Regions from separate parts of the Homo sapiens genome. Here regions 2 and 3 are each linked to region 1. A link means that fine-mapping ties the variant in region 1 to the expression of a gene that starts in the linked region. Tissue or cell type: whole blood. Region 1 holds a variant in brackets; each other region holds the start of a gene. All regions are shown on one strand. Distances are from middle to middle.

Region 1 (5,145 bases):
CTGACTGGGTCTTTCTTTCCATCTGTGACATAAGCCCAGAAATAACTGTCTCTGAGTAATAGTTTGGCTTGAGGAGCTGGTTAGCTGATAACTTAATTGCTAGAGCTGGTCTGCAGTGCCAGCTGTTGTCCACAGGCATGCAGGACACTTGTGCAATGCCAAGATGTTTGAAAAGAGGAACAGGGCAGGGCGAGGGGTGGGGTCTTCAGGTCAGAAGTTGCTTTCTAGCCCTTTATGACCCCAGTTGTCATCCCGTTGGTTTAACATTTCTCTTTAGAAAACTGTAGCCTGAAGAAACATTACCTTTGCCCTTCTGAACCACAGAATGACAAGATGCATTGTCACGGTCAAAGCCTTGCTTATAAATGTTTGACCTCATCACATTTGGGTGGAGTCTGTTGGCATTTTGCCTCAAGAAAATTCAGTGCAAGTAATGTTTGCCACGCCAACTCCGTCTGATTTATAGACATATTGTATGAGACTTTCTAGCCTGACTTATACACAAAGCCCACTTGAAAAATGAGGAATGGACAATTTCCATGTGCGTGACACGGGATTCCTGGATCTGTTCATCCTAATATATAATAATATCAGAAGGTTAGATGGGGTGACTTCTTAAGCATCCTTGGAAGTCATACATTCCACAACCCTTCCTCAGATAGTTTCTTTCAGTATAGAGTTGTTTGGAATTGGATGACAATAAGTTAAACTTTGGGGCAACTAATTACACCTATAGAAACATTCAAGGACCTTCAAATTGGCCCAAATGCTATATAGCACATGAATCCAGTAGAAGGGATGTAATAAAATGAAACTTACTGTTTGATAATTGTGTCATTTAGAGTTGTTCATTCAGTATTCCTGTAGCCATCTGAAGGGTCTACTGTAGCCATCTGAAGGGTCATCTTAGGCTGGCACTGTAACTAGTTCGTGTCTGTACTATACAGACGCTGAGCTAAATCGATTTTCCTGGGAATCTGGCTTTTTATTTCAAAGAAGCTTACTGTTTGGAACCACCCTATATAGCTAAAATTTAAGATCTAGAAAGAATCCTTTTTGATCATCTGACTCACAGGTATAGAAACTGAGGCCCAGCAGAATGAAATTGTTAAGCCAGGCTCCAGGACTTACAGGATTTTCTTGGTAGGTTTTTTTACCAACTTCCCTCTCCAGCAAAGAGCCTAAAATGACTGATAATACCATGTTGCTGTCTTTCTCCAGGGCTCAGCCTTCTTTAAATGGGCCTGCTTCTTCATCTGGTATTTAATCTGAGATGGAAAGTGAGATGCGAAACCCAATTTTCCCTTTCACTTGGTCACATGCCCAGAAGCAGCAGCGTTCAGTGGGCCGAGTACTGGCGTGGAACCTTCCTCTGTTCCCATGTCTGTGGCGTGGCACGAACCTGTGATGTGGGGCTCTCCCGCCCTTGCCCTGGAGGGGCCTTCAGGGACATGTGGCTCACCCATCTGTTATTGTCACATATCCCCCAGAGGAAGGAGGGACAGGCTGTGAGGTTAGCTTGTTTATTTTATGAGGAAACAGGCACAGAAAAATTAATTTACAGAGTCTTGGACAAAATCCCAAAGGAAGGAGGAGTGGGAAGAGCAGAGAGCGGATAAACAGCACAACGCCATCCCTGGACACGCCTAGTTCTTGCTTTTATTTAAATTTTGGTAGGTTCTGTGGCCACACCCACTTTAGGCTAGGTACTGGGAGACAACCTCTGGGGTTTTCTGGTAACCAGTTACATTCTCCAAGAGGTGGCCATTACCAGCTGAAAGGTTCGAGGTGAACTCACATCCAGCCTCTCCAAAAGGAGCTTGGGAACCTGTGTTCCCTCCGGGCAGTCTCCCAGACCGGGTTTGGTATCAGCCCCTCCCTGCCACTGCCCTGCATCTGGTCAGCTGGGGAAAAGGGGGCAGGGAGGAGAGAAGGCCAGTGGAGCAGAGCCATTCATTCTGTGGCTTATTTTGTCATCAGCAGGTCCCATTGCTCCCGCTGATTGGGGACTGCCTCTTCCTCGGGGGTGTAGTTGCTGAGATACTGCTTCCCCCTCAGGGTGGTGCTCGGCACACCCACCATAGCCTCTGGCAGGGAAATGCTGGAATCCAGACCTTCACCAGAAGCACCATTGTAGAAGAAAAAGAACAACCTCCTCAATAATAATGCAAGTGGGCCAATAATTTTTACAATATGCATATTTGTTTTCTTGATATAAAAATAATATATATTCATTGTAGAACACTTAGGAAACCACAAATCAAAAAGGAGAAAATAAAGTACACTCACCTCTGATTCTACCATCCTGGTACACATATGGTGCAGCGCAGCGGGTGAAAGCACAGGCTCTAGGATCCGAGTCCCTGGGTTTGAATCCGGGCTCCCCTGAGAAACAGCTGTGTGCCTTGGGTCGGATACTTAACCTCTCTGAGTCTTTTTTCCTCCCCTGTAAAATGGGGGTAATAAAAGTACCTACTTCATGGGATTGTTGCAAGGATTACAAGATTGTAGTGATATGGAGCTCACAGGGCAGTGCAGGAATGTAGTAAGAGCTAAGTAAATATTTGCTGCAGTTGTTGATTTATAGCTATCATTTTGCTCTCTGCCACAATGACATTTTCAGAAGACATTTTCAGAAGCAGACTTTTCTAGTTGCGAAGTAAACTCAGCCAGGAAACAATGCAGAGACTCCTTGCCCTGAAGTGGCTGTTATTATTAACTAAAGGGACTCTTTTCGAAGTGTATTTATAATACCTGAGCGATCCCAGATAGTTGATGTTTACTTTGAGATGATTTACACTTCCCCTAGTTAGTAACAACCCTTTTTTAGAAACGCATACCACTATTTAAGCAACTAAACTTGCCAGATTGCTAAAAATCAGTTACATTTCTTGTTCAAGTGAATTCACTTGATTAAACCAATTTTACTGTATTTTACTGTGATAAGAACACTTAACGAAATCTACCCTCTTTACGCATTTTTAAGTATCCATTACAAGCACAATGTGGCTATAGGCACAGTGTGGTTCCGCA[A/G]ATCTCTAGAACTTATTCATCTTGCCTAACTGAAATTTTATGCTGGTTGATTAGCAAAGCCCCATTTCCTTCTCCCCACAGCCTCTGGCAGTCATGGTTCCCCTCTCTGATTTTGTGTGTTTGACTATTTTACATATCTTATACAAGTAGAATTATGTATGTTTGTCCTTCTGTGATGGGCTTATTTCACTTAGCATGTTTTTTTCCTCAAGGGCCATCCATGTTGTTGCATATTGCAGAATTTTTTTTAAGGCTGAATAGTATTCCATTGGATGTGTACACCACATTTTCTCTATCCGTTCATTCACTGATGGATGCTTTTCTTATTTCTACATCTTGGCTGTTGCCATAAAGCGTCCATCAATGAATGAATGGATAAAGAAATGATGCCAATAATGCTGCAGTGAACATGGGTGTGCAGATATCTCTTCAAAGTCCTGATTTCAGTTCTTTTGGACAAATACCCAAAGTGGGATTGCTGGATGATATGATAGTTCCATTTTTAGTTTTTGGAGGAATAAACCAAATGTATTGAACACCTACTGTGCTCAGTAGTAATTCCTGGGTGTATAGTGGTGAATAGAATAAGGAGTGGAGTCTCTGCCCTCAGAATTTCTGTCTTATAGTCAGCAAATGTATATACCATTTCAGAGTATAAGTGCTATGAAGGAAATTCATTAAAGCTATAAGACTCTATCCCCGGGAACCTGATTTGATAGTGTAAGGCATCTGCAGTGGGCCTTTGGGTTACAGACACAGTGAAGACTTGGCCCTGCTCTCAGGCTGCTACAGACCCCATCAGGAGGAAACAGGAAAGGCGGTTCTGTTCCACTGGGTGGGGGAAGGCCACCTGGAGGAAAGTTCCCCAGAGGGATGAGTGGCTGTAGTTGGAGAAGAGGAAAGGGCATTCCAGACAGAAAGAAAAGCCTGAGCAAGGGTGTGGAGACAGGGAAGTACAGGATGCTGCTGCGGAACAGCAGAGCCCAGTGTGGTTTGTGCAGTGGAGAGGGTGGGGCTTAGTAAGAGACTGAGCAAAGGTTGAGAATTGCAGCAGAGGCTAGTCATGGAGAATTTGTTCTGGAAACATTTATTCTAGACATAATCAGGGACACTCACAGTTTTGGAGATAATCTTTGAGTTCTAAGAAGGGATGGGGATCGTCTGAGGGCTAGATTAGTGAGGTTGGAACCTGGGGACAAGAAGGAACTCTTGGTGCCTGCCTCGTGCTGGATGCTCACTGCACGGGTGCTGGAGGGACACAAAGGTGAACATGCAGCCAGGAGAGCCTGGGGTTGCACAGACAGAGCCACACAGAAAGTGCTGGGGGCAGTGGTAGGAATGCCCACATGGAACTGGAGCTACTAACTATGGGAGGGGCGGGCAGGGCCTCGAAAAGAGGAGAGGTTTGAGCAGTTTTAGGCAGTGTTCCGTCACCACCACGGGCAAGTGGCCCTGCCCACCCCAGGAGTGGGAGGAGGGACATGGCAGGGGGAGCTCGGCTGCATTTCTGCCTGCCTTCCATTGCCTTGCATCCTTTCATTAACACACATCTTTCTTTGTTTTTTTTATTTAAGTAGAGACAGGGCCTCACTCACCCAGGCTGGTCTCAAACTCCTGAGCTCAAGTAATCCTCTTGCCTTGGCCTCCCAAAGTGCTGGGATTACAGGTCTGAGCCACCGCACCTGGCCATAGACACACATCTTGTTTAAAACTCATAATTAGAAACTTGGCTCTGAAAAGAAATGTAAGCATTATTTTTCTCTTGTTCTATTAAAAATAGACTGCCAAATTTGCTTCCTCAGGGACCCCCGTGCTATATTTACCTGAGCCAGGGAGCAACTGTTCTAACCCCTTATGCCATTCCCTGGTGGCTCTTTCTCTGGCCAGGATGGAGGACCACAGTTTCCACAGGGGCTGTGACGGGAAGCCCTTGATTGGGTAGAAGGGGCTCCTTCCTTCCTGCCCCCTCCTTTTGTTCCCAGAACATGGAGCCAGGAATGCCAATCTGGGATCTTCCGCAGGACAAATTCTTTCTCCTAGTTCCCCAAGCTGTGTAGCTTTTGGGTCCTTTGGCAAAGAAAGAAACTATATTTTGAAACAACTGGACTGATT
Region 2 (5,145 bases), 34 kb after region 1:
TGTGGAGAGAAACCCAAAATGCAGCCGCTTCAGAAGGAAAGCGGCCCCATCAGGTGGGGACAGAAGAGGGTAGGCAGCAGAGGCCAGGTCTGTGGACAAAAGCCCCACTTCAGAGTGGTTGGAAGCCAGGACAGGAGGGACTCATGGAGGTGACCGCTTCACAGGAGTCCTTTCTCCAGTCGTGCTAGGGAGGAGCCCCTGCCTGTCCAGCACTGCCCCTGCCTCTTGCTGTACCTTGCCAGTGTGCCCTCCCCCCGCCCACTACCATAGTAGGCATCTGGCTTTTCCCACCAACCCATCTACCTTTTTGGTGGTCCAGACCTACAGTCTCCTTGCAGAGCACTCCTCCTCCCACCCTCACTTCAAGTGAGGTTTGGATGAGATTGACCACATCCCCTTGGTCACAAATATTGGCTCAGGAATGGACATGTGGCCCTGTTCAAGCCTATGAGAGCCAGGACCCCCAGACTTATGTTAGAACTCTTGAGAGAGATACTCTGTCTTCTCTGAACCTTGCAGTATATAGAAATGAGCCTATTGATGCAACAATATAAATGGCACTGAGAGGGGTGTCCAGAGCTGCTGGGGTCAGGGGAGGGAGGTCAGCCTGGCAGAAGCCATCTTGTGGAGCATGAAAATGAAAGAGACCTTGAGAAAGGCCAGAGGAATCCAGGCCTGTGGTGACAACATTTGAGCTGCTGGATCAAACCTCACCTGAAGTCCTTCCTATTCCTACTAGATATTTTTTTCCACTGTGTGGGCCAATGCATTCCCTTTATACTGTGTAAGCCAGGCATGGTGGCTCACACCTATAATCCCAGCAATGCAGGAGGCTGAAGTGGGAAGATCGTTGAGGCCAGGAGTTCAAGACCAGCCTGGGCAACCTAAGAAGACCCTGTCTCTAAAAAAGAATTAAATATAAATAAATAAATAATAAAAATATAATGTTTAAACCAGTTTCACTTGAGATTTTAGTTACTTGCAACATAAATAATCCAAACTTTGTTCCGACCCACAGGGTTCTCATTTCACCAGGGGCTGCAATCAGTCGTGGCCAAACAGGAGCCAGTCCTTGCATTGTATGCAGTGGCTTTAGCTGCCGTTGAGCTAGAAAGGAAGAAAAGCAGTCCACAGCCCCCGCCAACAGCTTCAAAATGCCAATCCCTGTTGAGGTCTATGTGCGAAGCACCACGCAGTTCAGTCTGTCCTCCCCGCTCACAACATCACACAGGACTCCACGGGCCGAGCAGTTCAGTCTGTCCTCCCACGCTCACAACATCACACAGGACTCCATGGGCTGAGGGTCTTACTAGGAGAAGGAACAAGCTCAGTCTCCCTGGGGTAAGCGGGTGGGATGAGGGACTTCCTAGAAGAAACAGGATTTTAACTGGGGCAGGCAGGATAGGTGAATGTGGATGATGGAGAATGGGAAAGGACGTTCAAAGCTGAAAGAGCAGCTGAAGCCCAGCCTTGGGGCAGGAGAGCTCTGGTCCTGCTCAGGAAATGGTGAGTGGCCCATGGAGAGCACCCAGAGTGAGGGGGGCAGACTAGCCTGGTTAGGTAAGCTGGCAGGCTTCCAAGGCCTGGCTGAGGCAAGGTCTGGCAAGTCTGGATTTTCCTTCCCAGGCTGTGGGAGGCTTCACAGGCACGAGCAGAGCTGCACTGTGGAAAGGTGCGGGGTGGTGGTGTCCAGGATGCCGAGTTAGGGGGTCCGTGATGAGGACCCCCAGGGGCAGTGAGGGCAGAAGGGGGGGTGCACGGGAGGACCGCCACAGCAACTGCTGCGAGCAAGGGAGGGACGCAGGGTGTCTGGAAGCCAGCCGCTGCAGAAGGGGCCTGGCAGGGAGAGGACAGCAGGAGAGGAAGCGTCTCTCAGACGCAGGAAGCCGCACCCCACCCGAGACCACGGCACCTCTCAGCGTCACCCCTGACTGCCTGCAGTGGGCCCAGGCGGTTCAAGTGTGACTCATCCCTAGCCCAGCTCTCAAGGGCGCGCTGAGCGGCTGTCCTGCTGTGGGCTGTGGCTGCCAGGAGCGCCTCCCTGAGGAGCGGGCTGTCGCTTCAGAGGCTCCAGGGCCGCTGGAAGACACCCACACACACACACCCCAGCCCACACTGCTACCCTGAGTTTAGCCAGAGGCGGGTGAGACCCCCAGAATTAGAACTCGCCTTCACTCTGGCATGTAGTCCACGGCTGCTCGGGGAGGAAGGGATGGGCGCCCACCAGCTCCCTCTGCACCCCTGCCTCCGAGCCCCGGGCCACGGCCAGCTCTGTGGAGCCCAGAGTTAACACCGTGTCTCTAATTTTGGAGGAGACTCCACAGCCCTCGCAGTTCCAGGTCACCCCTTCCTCCAGGGAGCCTACCCTTCAGCCCCGGGCTAGGCAGGCTGCACTCTGGCAGGGCCTGGAAAGCCAAGCCCAGGGTCTGTGAGGCCCTCAGTCTATGGGCTGTTCCCTGGGGGTGAATGAGAAGACCACGGCCCAGGACGCTCCCTCATCCCCTCGCCCTGGGTGCTCACAGAGAGGCCCCAAGAGGGTACAGAGGGCAGTCTCAGATTGGGAAGTGCGTCCACAGGCTTCCCACAGAGGCTCTGCCCTTTGGTACCTCCTACGCAGACTGCAGCACCCCATGCGGTGGCAGGGCCGCTCCATGGGCCTCTGCGTCCTGGGAGCCAGGACCCCCACCTGGAGTTGGAGAAGTTGCTGGCGGGGAAGGGAGGATGATGAAGGAGGACATCATCTGGCAATGGCCCTGGAGCATTCCTGAACCACCCCCTCCCTGTCTGGGCCACGCCCTGTGGCAGGTGGGAGGACAATGCCGCCTGTGTGCCGTCACCCCAGCACGCTGGCTCAAGGGGAGGGCTGTGGTGCAGCCCTGCTCCAGCCTTGGCCTCTCCTGATGTCCCTCTCCCTCCCTCCACAGCCCCTGCTATCTGCCATCTCCATCCGTCCAGCTGGGCCGCCTCTGTGGAACCCAGGCATCACCAAGGTAAGCAGCCCCTGCTATCTACCATCTCCATCCGTCCAGCAGAGCCGTCTCTGTGGGACCCAGGCATCACCAAGGTAAGCAGTTTCCTGTCTTCCTTCCACCTGTCCCAGTCACTGTGGTGGAGGGACCTGGCAGCAGGGGCTCTGAGAAGAAGAATCTGGAAGGTGGGGTGGGGCAAAGGGGGCCCTGGGCCATTCAAGCACAGGGGACCAGAAGCACTGGCCCTTACCTGGCTGGGCTCCAAGCTGCAACCCCCATGAAATGTGAGGACAGTCTGGCAAGGCGGGACCCCAGGCCCCTGGTAGAGGGGCCATCTCCATTCACATCATCCCCTAATCTGCATGCCCTCCAGGTTTAGGGAGCCATCCAGCAGCTCCTCATCCCCAAAGTCTGCAGGGCTGATGGCTGGTCAGCCCCACAGTCCCCGGGAGCTCCTCGGGGCTGCAGGGCACCGCAGCAGGAGGCCCAGCACAGAACTCCGGGTCCCGCCCAGTCCAAGTCTCACCATGGACTCTCAGTACGAGACGGGCCACATTCGCAAGCTACAGGCCCGGCACATGCAGATGCAGGAGAAGACTTTCACCAAGTGGATCAATAACGTCTTCCAGTGCGGCCAGGTGAGTATAGCCAGCTGTGACCCACAGCCCACCCATACCAGGCCCCCAGCTCTGGCCAGTGGGCCTCCGGGGTGAGCTGTGGGGTCATCTGCCTGAGGCCAAGCTGAGGCCAGAGCTCCTTCTTCCAAAGCAGCTGCTCTGGGTCGTACCTCTCAGGTCCCAGGATGGGAGGACAGGTGAGGCTGGGCTGACCCCATACTTACCCCTGTCCCCTCCCCAGGCGGGCATCAAGATCCGGAACCTGTACACAGAGCTGGCTGACGGCATCCACCTCCTGCGGCTGCTGGAGCTCATCTCAGGGGAGGCCCTGCCACCCCCGAGCCGGGGCCGCCTGCGTGTGCACTTCCTGGAGAACAGCAGCCGAGCTCTGGCCTTCCTCAGGGCCAAGGTGGGCCCCAGGGAAAGGGGTCTGGGATGGTGCTGGGGCAGGCAGCTGGGACAGGCTGAACTACTGGGTCACCTTTCCTGCGCCAGGCCACTGGGCAGAACAGAGGAGCTGGGGCCTGAGTACAGGAGGAGTGGCTGGGACACAGAGGAGCAGAAGCCACGCCCTCCTCGCACAGCACCCCTGACTTGGAGAGCACCCAGCTGGCCATGGCAGTAGCAATCCAGGTCCCTACTGGGGTGGAAAATGTCACTGTCTGTCATAAGAGAGACTCACAGGATTCTAGGCCAAAAGAATCTTAGCGTTCTCTTAGGCTTTTCATTTCACAGATGAGGAAACAGAGGCCCTGAATTATTTACCAGGCAAGATCGATGGTTAACCAGCCAACAGAGCCCAGATGTGGGACTAAGACGGCAGGTGGGGAAGAGGAGCAGGGCCTGTCTTGGAGAAGGAGGGAGGAGGCCTCAGCAAATGGGGGGAGGCAGAGTCACCTGAAAGAAAGGGACAGGCTAAGGAGATGGGCACTAAAAGGAGGCCGGAGCTCCAGGGACAGAGGGACCCTCATGGCCAGGGTGAGGGGCTGGTGCAGGGGTGGGGTGGGGCAAAGGGATCATTGGAAACCGGGAACTGTGAAGGCCAAGGGCTCCTGGAGGTGGCTGTCCCTGGAGGCTGTGAAGTCACTGAGCTGGGCCTGGCTGGATGGAGCCTGACTGTGCGTGCCTATCACTATATCCTGGAGTGGAGCTTACATCCAGCCTCCTGGGGTGTGTTGGAGGAAAGCCAGGGAGGGGAGAAGCCCAAGCAAAGGGAATGGGAGTGACTGCTGTCCTGAGCAGGTGCAAGAGCAGAACGCTGCCAGCTGCAGAATGCTGGGCCCTAGTTGATCCAGGGACAATGACCCTGTGAGCCAGTCATCTCCCCTCCAGGAACTGGGGAAGGGTGTAAGCCCCACAGCCTTTGTCAGAGGTGTTGCAGCTCTCCCCAAGCTTTAATATACAGCATGTCACTGATACCTGTGAGGGTGACATCCTTGTCTCCATACACATAGGAGGCAACTGTGGTCTAGAAAGGATGACGGAGTTGCCGCAAACACACAGGGAATGTGTGGCAGAATGAGGGATGCATTCGCTTATGGAGATGCTCCCATGCCCTG
Region 3 (5,145 bases), 44 kb before region 1:
ATTGATTGTAACGAATGTTCCATTGGTTCAGGATGTTGATAGTGGGGGAGGCTGTGTGTCGGGGAGGGTGGGGGTATATGGGAACTCTCGGTACTTTATGCTCCATTTTGCTGTGAACCTAAAACTGATCTGAAATTCACGAGTCATTATCACTTACATTCACTCTTGGTGTTGTACATTCTGTGGGTTTTGACAAATATATAATGACATGTATCCATCATTATAGTACCATAAAAAGTAGAGCCACTGCCATAAAAATCCTCTGTTCTCTGCCTGTTCATTCCTTCCTTCTCCCTAACACCTAGAAACTACTGACCTTTTTACTTCCTCCATAATTTTGCCTTCTCCAGAATGTCATAAAGATGAAATCGTACAGTACATAGCATTTTCGGATTGGCTTCTTTCACTTAGTAATAGGCATTTAAGTTTCCTCTGTGTCTTTTTATGGCTTGATAGCTCATTTCTTTTTAGTGCTGAATAAGATTCCATTGTCTGGATGTACCACAGATTATCCTTTCACTTACTGAAGGACATGTTAGTTGCTTCCAATTTTTGGCACTTATGAATAAAGCCACTATGAACATCCATGTACAGGCTTTTCTGTGGATATAAGTTTTCAATTCATTTGGGTAAATACTAAGGAGCTGATTTCTGCATCATATGGTAAGATTGTATTTATATCCGTTTGTTTTTATGTATTCTAAAAAAATACATCGAAGCTTTTACTTTTGTTGTCAAATATGTCAGCCTTTGCTTTCATAATTTCTGTCCTTAATGTTGGTTAGAAAGGCTTTTCCACCGCCAAATTGTATAAATCTCTTGTACCTTCTTCTAGTAGTGCAGTGGTTTCATTTTCTTTTTACATTTCAATCTTTGTTTTATTTTGACACAAGGCAGATGTCTAACTTTATTTTCCCTTGGCTTTCTTTTCACTTCCCTAGTTACATACAATTCCCTCCAACTATGTGACCCACACAACAACTCCAAAGGAGTTTCCATTTTGCTCTTAAGGAAACTAGGGCAGAGAGGTAACTCATCACATTTAAAATCACACAGCCATTAATTTACATAGTCAAGGTTCAAACCCAGATCTTTTGATGCAAAGTCCTGTTCTCTCATACTCCAAGTATGGTCCAGGGATGGGTAGCATTGGCAATACCCGAGAGCCTGTTAGAAATGTAGAGTCATGGGCCCCATCCCATACCTACCGAATCAGAATCCGCATTTCTGTTAGGTTGGAGAAGTACTGCAGGGTGTACTGTTTCCCCAGACTTAGGCCACATCAGAGTCACCTAGGGCATCTGTTGAGCTCCATCTCTCCTCAATATTTTAACTCAGTAGGTCTGGACTGAAGACCAGGAATCTGCATTTTAACAAGCATCCCAGCTCATAAATGCATATATGCAGGTGGCCCCATGGATCACACTTGAGAAATGCTCTAAAACAACTAAGAAATATTCCTAAGCTACAATCAAGGACACAAAAGGTGATTATTTCCCCCAATCTCAACTTAGATAAGTGAGTATCCTTTTAACCTAGAAAAGAAACAGGCCAGGGGCGGTGGCTCACGCCTATAATCCCAATACTTTGGGAGGCCAAGGCAGGCGGATCATCTGAGGTCAGGAGTTCAAGACCAGCCTTACCAATATGGTGAAACCCCATCTCTACTAAAAATACAAAAATTAGCTGGGCATGGTGGTGAGCGCCTGTAGTCCCAGCTACTCAGGAGGCTGAGACAGGAAAATTGCTTGAACCCGGGAAGCGGAGGTTGCAGTGAGCCGAGATCGTGCCACTGCACTCCAGCCTGGGCGACAGAGCGAGACTCCGTCTCAGAAAACAACAACAACAACAAAAAACAGCTAGGAGGTGACAATGACTCACATGTCAATATGTGGAAATAAAGTTGTAATAATGAGGATAATGTAATAATGAGAGTAATGACTAAATTTTCGGCTTTACAGAAAAACACATAAAGAAAACTAAGGGGAAAAAGCCTTTAGCTGATCCAGAATTTAGTGAGGGCAATGTGGAGAAGTAGGAGAAACGGCTACTCAAATAGATTCCAGTCCACTTCCCCTCAAGATTGTGTCAATTATGCCCGTGAGCCTGGGTCTCTTGGCCTGTAAAACGGAGTCATAACCACCCGCCCCCGGGAAGACAGAACCTGCCTGTCCACTTTCTGAACTTTTCATCCCCAGTATCGACGTCCAGAGGCCTGAATGAGTAAACGTTCCAGGAGATGGAGCAGCCTCCGGAGGCTCGCTTTGGGCAGCTCAGATTTACCCGGAAGCCGATGCCACCTGGCCAGAGGTGAGGCACCGGCAACCAGAAGGGGGCCCTGAGCATGACCGGTCAGTGCCACCCGGCCGGGAAGACACCATCTCCCCGCCCAGTCCTCTAGAATGACTCCGTCATCAATAATTCATTAAGAACCTCCTCTCAATTGGCTGACGCCTTCAGCCCTCTCTGGCAGAGATCCAATCAGGAAGGACCTGAGAGAGCTCGTCTGAATAGTGGGCGAGCGCGCGTGACGTAGCGGCCGAAGACTGGCTGTGGCAGCACAAGGCGGGGCCCTCCTCGGGCGGCGGCCAGCGCGGCCGGGGCGGCTCAGTGCGAGCCGGGGAGAGTCGAACCCGGAGCAGGGTCCCATCCGAGCGTGGACTGGCGGCAGGATGTTCAGCTGGATGGGGCGGCAGGCGGGCGGGCGCGAACGCGCTGGCGGCGCGGACGCGGTGCAGACGGTGACGGGCGGGCTGCGCTCGCTCTACCTGCGCAAGGTGCTGCCGCTGGAGGAGGCGTACCGCTTCCACGAGTTCCACTCGCCTGCGCTGGAGGACGCCGACTTCGAGAACAAGCCCATGATCCTGCTGGTGGGCCAGTACAGCACCGGCAAGACCACCTTCATCAGGTACCGTCACCGCCCCTCGCCCGGCTCCCGCCCCGCTCCGCCCTCCCCACGTGTGCGCCGCAGTCGGCCGCCTCCCGCCGCTGCCCCTCCCGGCCGGCGCGACCTCGGGGACCCCTCCCGGAGCTCGGCGCCCGGTGCCCTCGGCCCCGCCCCGGCTGGCCAGCCCCGCGCGCTGGAGGGTCCCGCGAACCCGCGCCCTGCGCACTCCGAGCCCTCCTTCCTTGCGGTTCGGAAGGCGTTGCTCCCGCTGGCCTCGTCCGGTCGCCCTGGCGGGAGGGTCCAAGGGAGAGAGGGGGCGCGAGCCATAATCAGCATATTCTTGACGAGGGAGTGATGCCTAGGGATGGAAATGGGGGGAGAGGCGTAGGGTATCCGAATGGGACAGAGTCCTAGTTGGAGAGTTTGTTTAACTATTCATTTGTTCAACTATTTCTTGAACAAATGAATGGCAGCAGGAGAGCGTATCGCCCAGGCCCCCTTCCCTTGAGGTCTTTACGTGCCACCCCACAGTGTTGTGGGGAGGGGATAAAGAGGCCGCCTACGTTCAGTTCATGCACCGCCTTTAGCCGCCCGTAGGAAGTGAGCTGCGTGTAGCAGCCGCACCAGCCTGTGGAACTAAGGGGGAGTGTCATATTACTATTTGTTAGTTTCCATTTCTTAGGTGGGTCATTCCCTCCTCGCTTACCCTTGACAACTGAAAATATTTGTCATGCTTACCGTGTTTCTGAAAGCACACAATCACTGTGCATACCCTGTGGTTCAAATCATATAGTTTCAAAAGAAGTGACTTTTGCTGGGAAATTATTTAGACAGAAACAGATTGCTTTGTTGATCACCTGTTTTATTTCTAAAGCAGCCAGCATATTTAGGCTCACTGTTTTTGGTAAGAAGAACTTATTTTTCTGACTTAAGCCGTGTATCAGTTGAAACAAAGTGCTGATCATTTAAGGTTTTGGTCCAGGGTTTTGGAAATTGTAACAATCTCTTCATCATTTGATGTGCAACAGGTGTTGAGAAAACTGCATCTATATTTGGATACATGCCATTTCTGTTAAGTAGCGACCTCTTTTTCTCCACTCCAGTGACCTAAATAGTTCCTACAAATAGAGTAGCTATCACTACAGGAAATATGTTAAATCCAGGCCTCCAGATACACTGCGAATGAATTCCACAAAACAAATATACTGTGTATTGAAATGTCGTTCTAGATAATAAATTGAGTGTGAAGAAAGTAATTTCAAAATTGCTTTATTTGGTGCTTATGGACAAGACAAAAATAGAATTAAATATGTCACCGTCACCCAGACACTCAAAATGAACCATAGCTGTATTACAGTAACTGGCACCTTGAAAGATGACAAATGTCACATTTAAGGTCTCAGTAATACTGTCTAGTTTTTAGGTACTAGGGATAATAAAGTGTTATGGCCAAGTGGTACAAGAGTGGGAAGCGGTACTGTTGAAACATACAAAGAAGAAAGGCATATATTTTTGTAATTTAGTGGTGGCATGTCCCCACACCCTAGGCATTTCCTCCTGTTTGTCTTTGCTGTGAGGTCCTTGTTGTGCCCAGGTGTCATCAGGGAGCCCCTGCTAGATGCTGTGCCAACCTGGAGATAATGCAGCCCTCTCTCTGCTCCCATAGACTGGATAGCTAGCCAGCCTGATTATCAACTCCCAGGAAGATGAATACAACTCACAGGAACATGAATTTATCTTTTGTATTTTTCCAGATTTCTCTCTCATTATATTCTCACTCTTCTCTCTGTTTCATTATTTGGAGAAATTTGTGGAATAGCTAAGCGCAGTTTTATGAAGGGTTCTGAGATTTGATTCCTGGCAGCTACCTCATCCAAATTGGCCACCTCTCAGCAGGTGCTGGAGCTGTGGGCCACCCTAGGGTGAGGGAGGAATCACCTTATTAGGAAGCCATTTGTTCTTGAGGCTTTCCTTGAGCTAAGTGGCTTTGTTGTTAGGTGATGTACACAAGGTAGACCAGTGAGGTTAGAAGAAAATCAGTGTGGGCAGGAAGCTTGGTGAGGCCACAGGAGACCTGAATTGCTTTTCAGATTGGAGCTAGGAGGAAGTGATTTAGCACCCGGGAGGAAATCCCCAAACAAAAGGGCAGCTACCCTGGAGACTTGTGAACTTGGAATTAAATATCACCCCAGACACTGTAAATGAACCATGGATTCATCTTGAGCGGAAGGGTTGGCCCAGGGTGCTGAGCATCCTGG

Evidence for each region. PIP is the estimated chance that this variant, and not a neighbour inherited with it, causes the effect.
Region 2: SPTBN5 starts here. The variant in region 1 is fine-mapped to the expression of SPTBN5 in whole blood (TOPMed, PIP above 0.99). The same link has a PIP of 0.9 or more in monocytes.
Region 3: it holds the start of EHD4, and the variant in region 1 is fine-mapped to the expression of EHD4 in whole blood (TOPMed, PIP above 0.99). The same link has a PIP of 0.9 or more in B cells, T cells, blood mononuclear cells, monocytes and non-classical monocytes.

The regions. Positions count from the first base shown.
Region 1 is chr15:41,925,651-41,930,795 of GRCh38, reverse strand. The region is part of intron 3 of EHD4 (EH domain containing 4); the gene reads left to right. It overlaps EHD4-AS1 (EHD4 antisense RNA 1), which reads right to left. Exons shown (of 4, transcript NR_120332.1): 2 at 4,629-4,715; 3 at 2,290-2,446; 4 at 1,510-2,114. Among named protein-coding and RNA genes, the nearest start is that of EHD4-AS1, 6.8 kb to the right of the region's middle. RefSeq lists enhancers at 1,187-1,316, 1,337-1,416, 1,379-1,882, 2,778-2,987, 4,388-4,905. The variant A/G (reference allele first, on the strand shown) is at 3,034.
Region 2 is chr15:41,891,744-41,896,888 of GRCh38, reverse strand. It overlaps SPTBN5 (spectrin beta, non-erythrocytic 5), which reads left to right and starts at 2,836. Exons shown (of 68, transcript NM_016642.4): 1 at 2,836-2,990; 2 at 3,343-3,607; 3 at 3,828-3,995. The coding sequence starts at 3,392. It overlaps EHD4 (EH domain containing 4), which reads left to right. Exons shown (of 6, transcript NM_139265.4): 6 at 1-956. LOC105370792 (a long non-coding RNA gene) reads right to left here and starts at 4,112. Exons shown (of 4, transcript NR_135681.1): 1 at 3,811-4,112; 2 at 1,553-1,662; 3 at 1-1,309. RefSeq lists an enhancer at 3,992-4,051.
Region 3 is chr15:41,970,022-41,975,166 of GRCh38, reverse strand. It overlaps EHD4 (EH domain containing 4), which reads left to right and starts at 2,610. Exons shown (of 6, transcript NM_139265.4): 1 at 2,610-2,908. The coding sequence starts at 2,673. PLA2G4E-AS1 (PLA2G4E antisense RNA 1) reads right to left here and starts at 2,404. Exons shown (of 4, transcript NR_120334.1): 1 at 2,169-2,404; 2 at 1,209-1,363. RefSeq lists silencers at 2,559-2,688, 2,729-2,798, 2,899-3,168 and an enhancer at 4,931-5,145.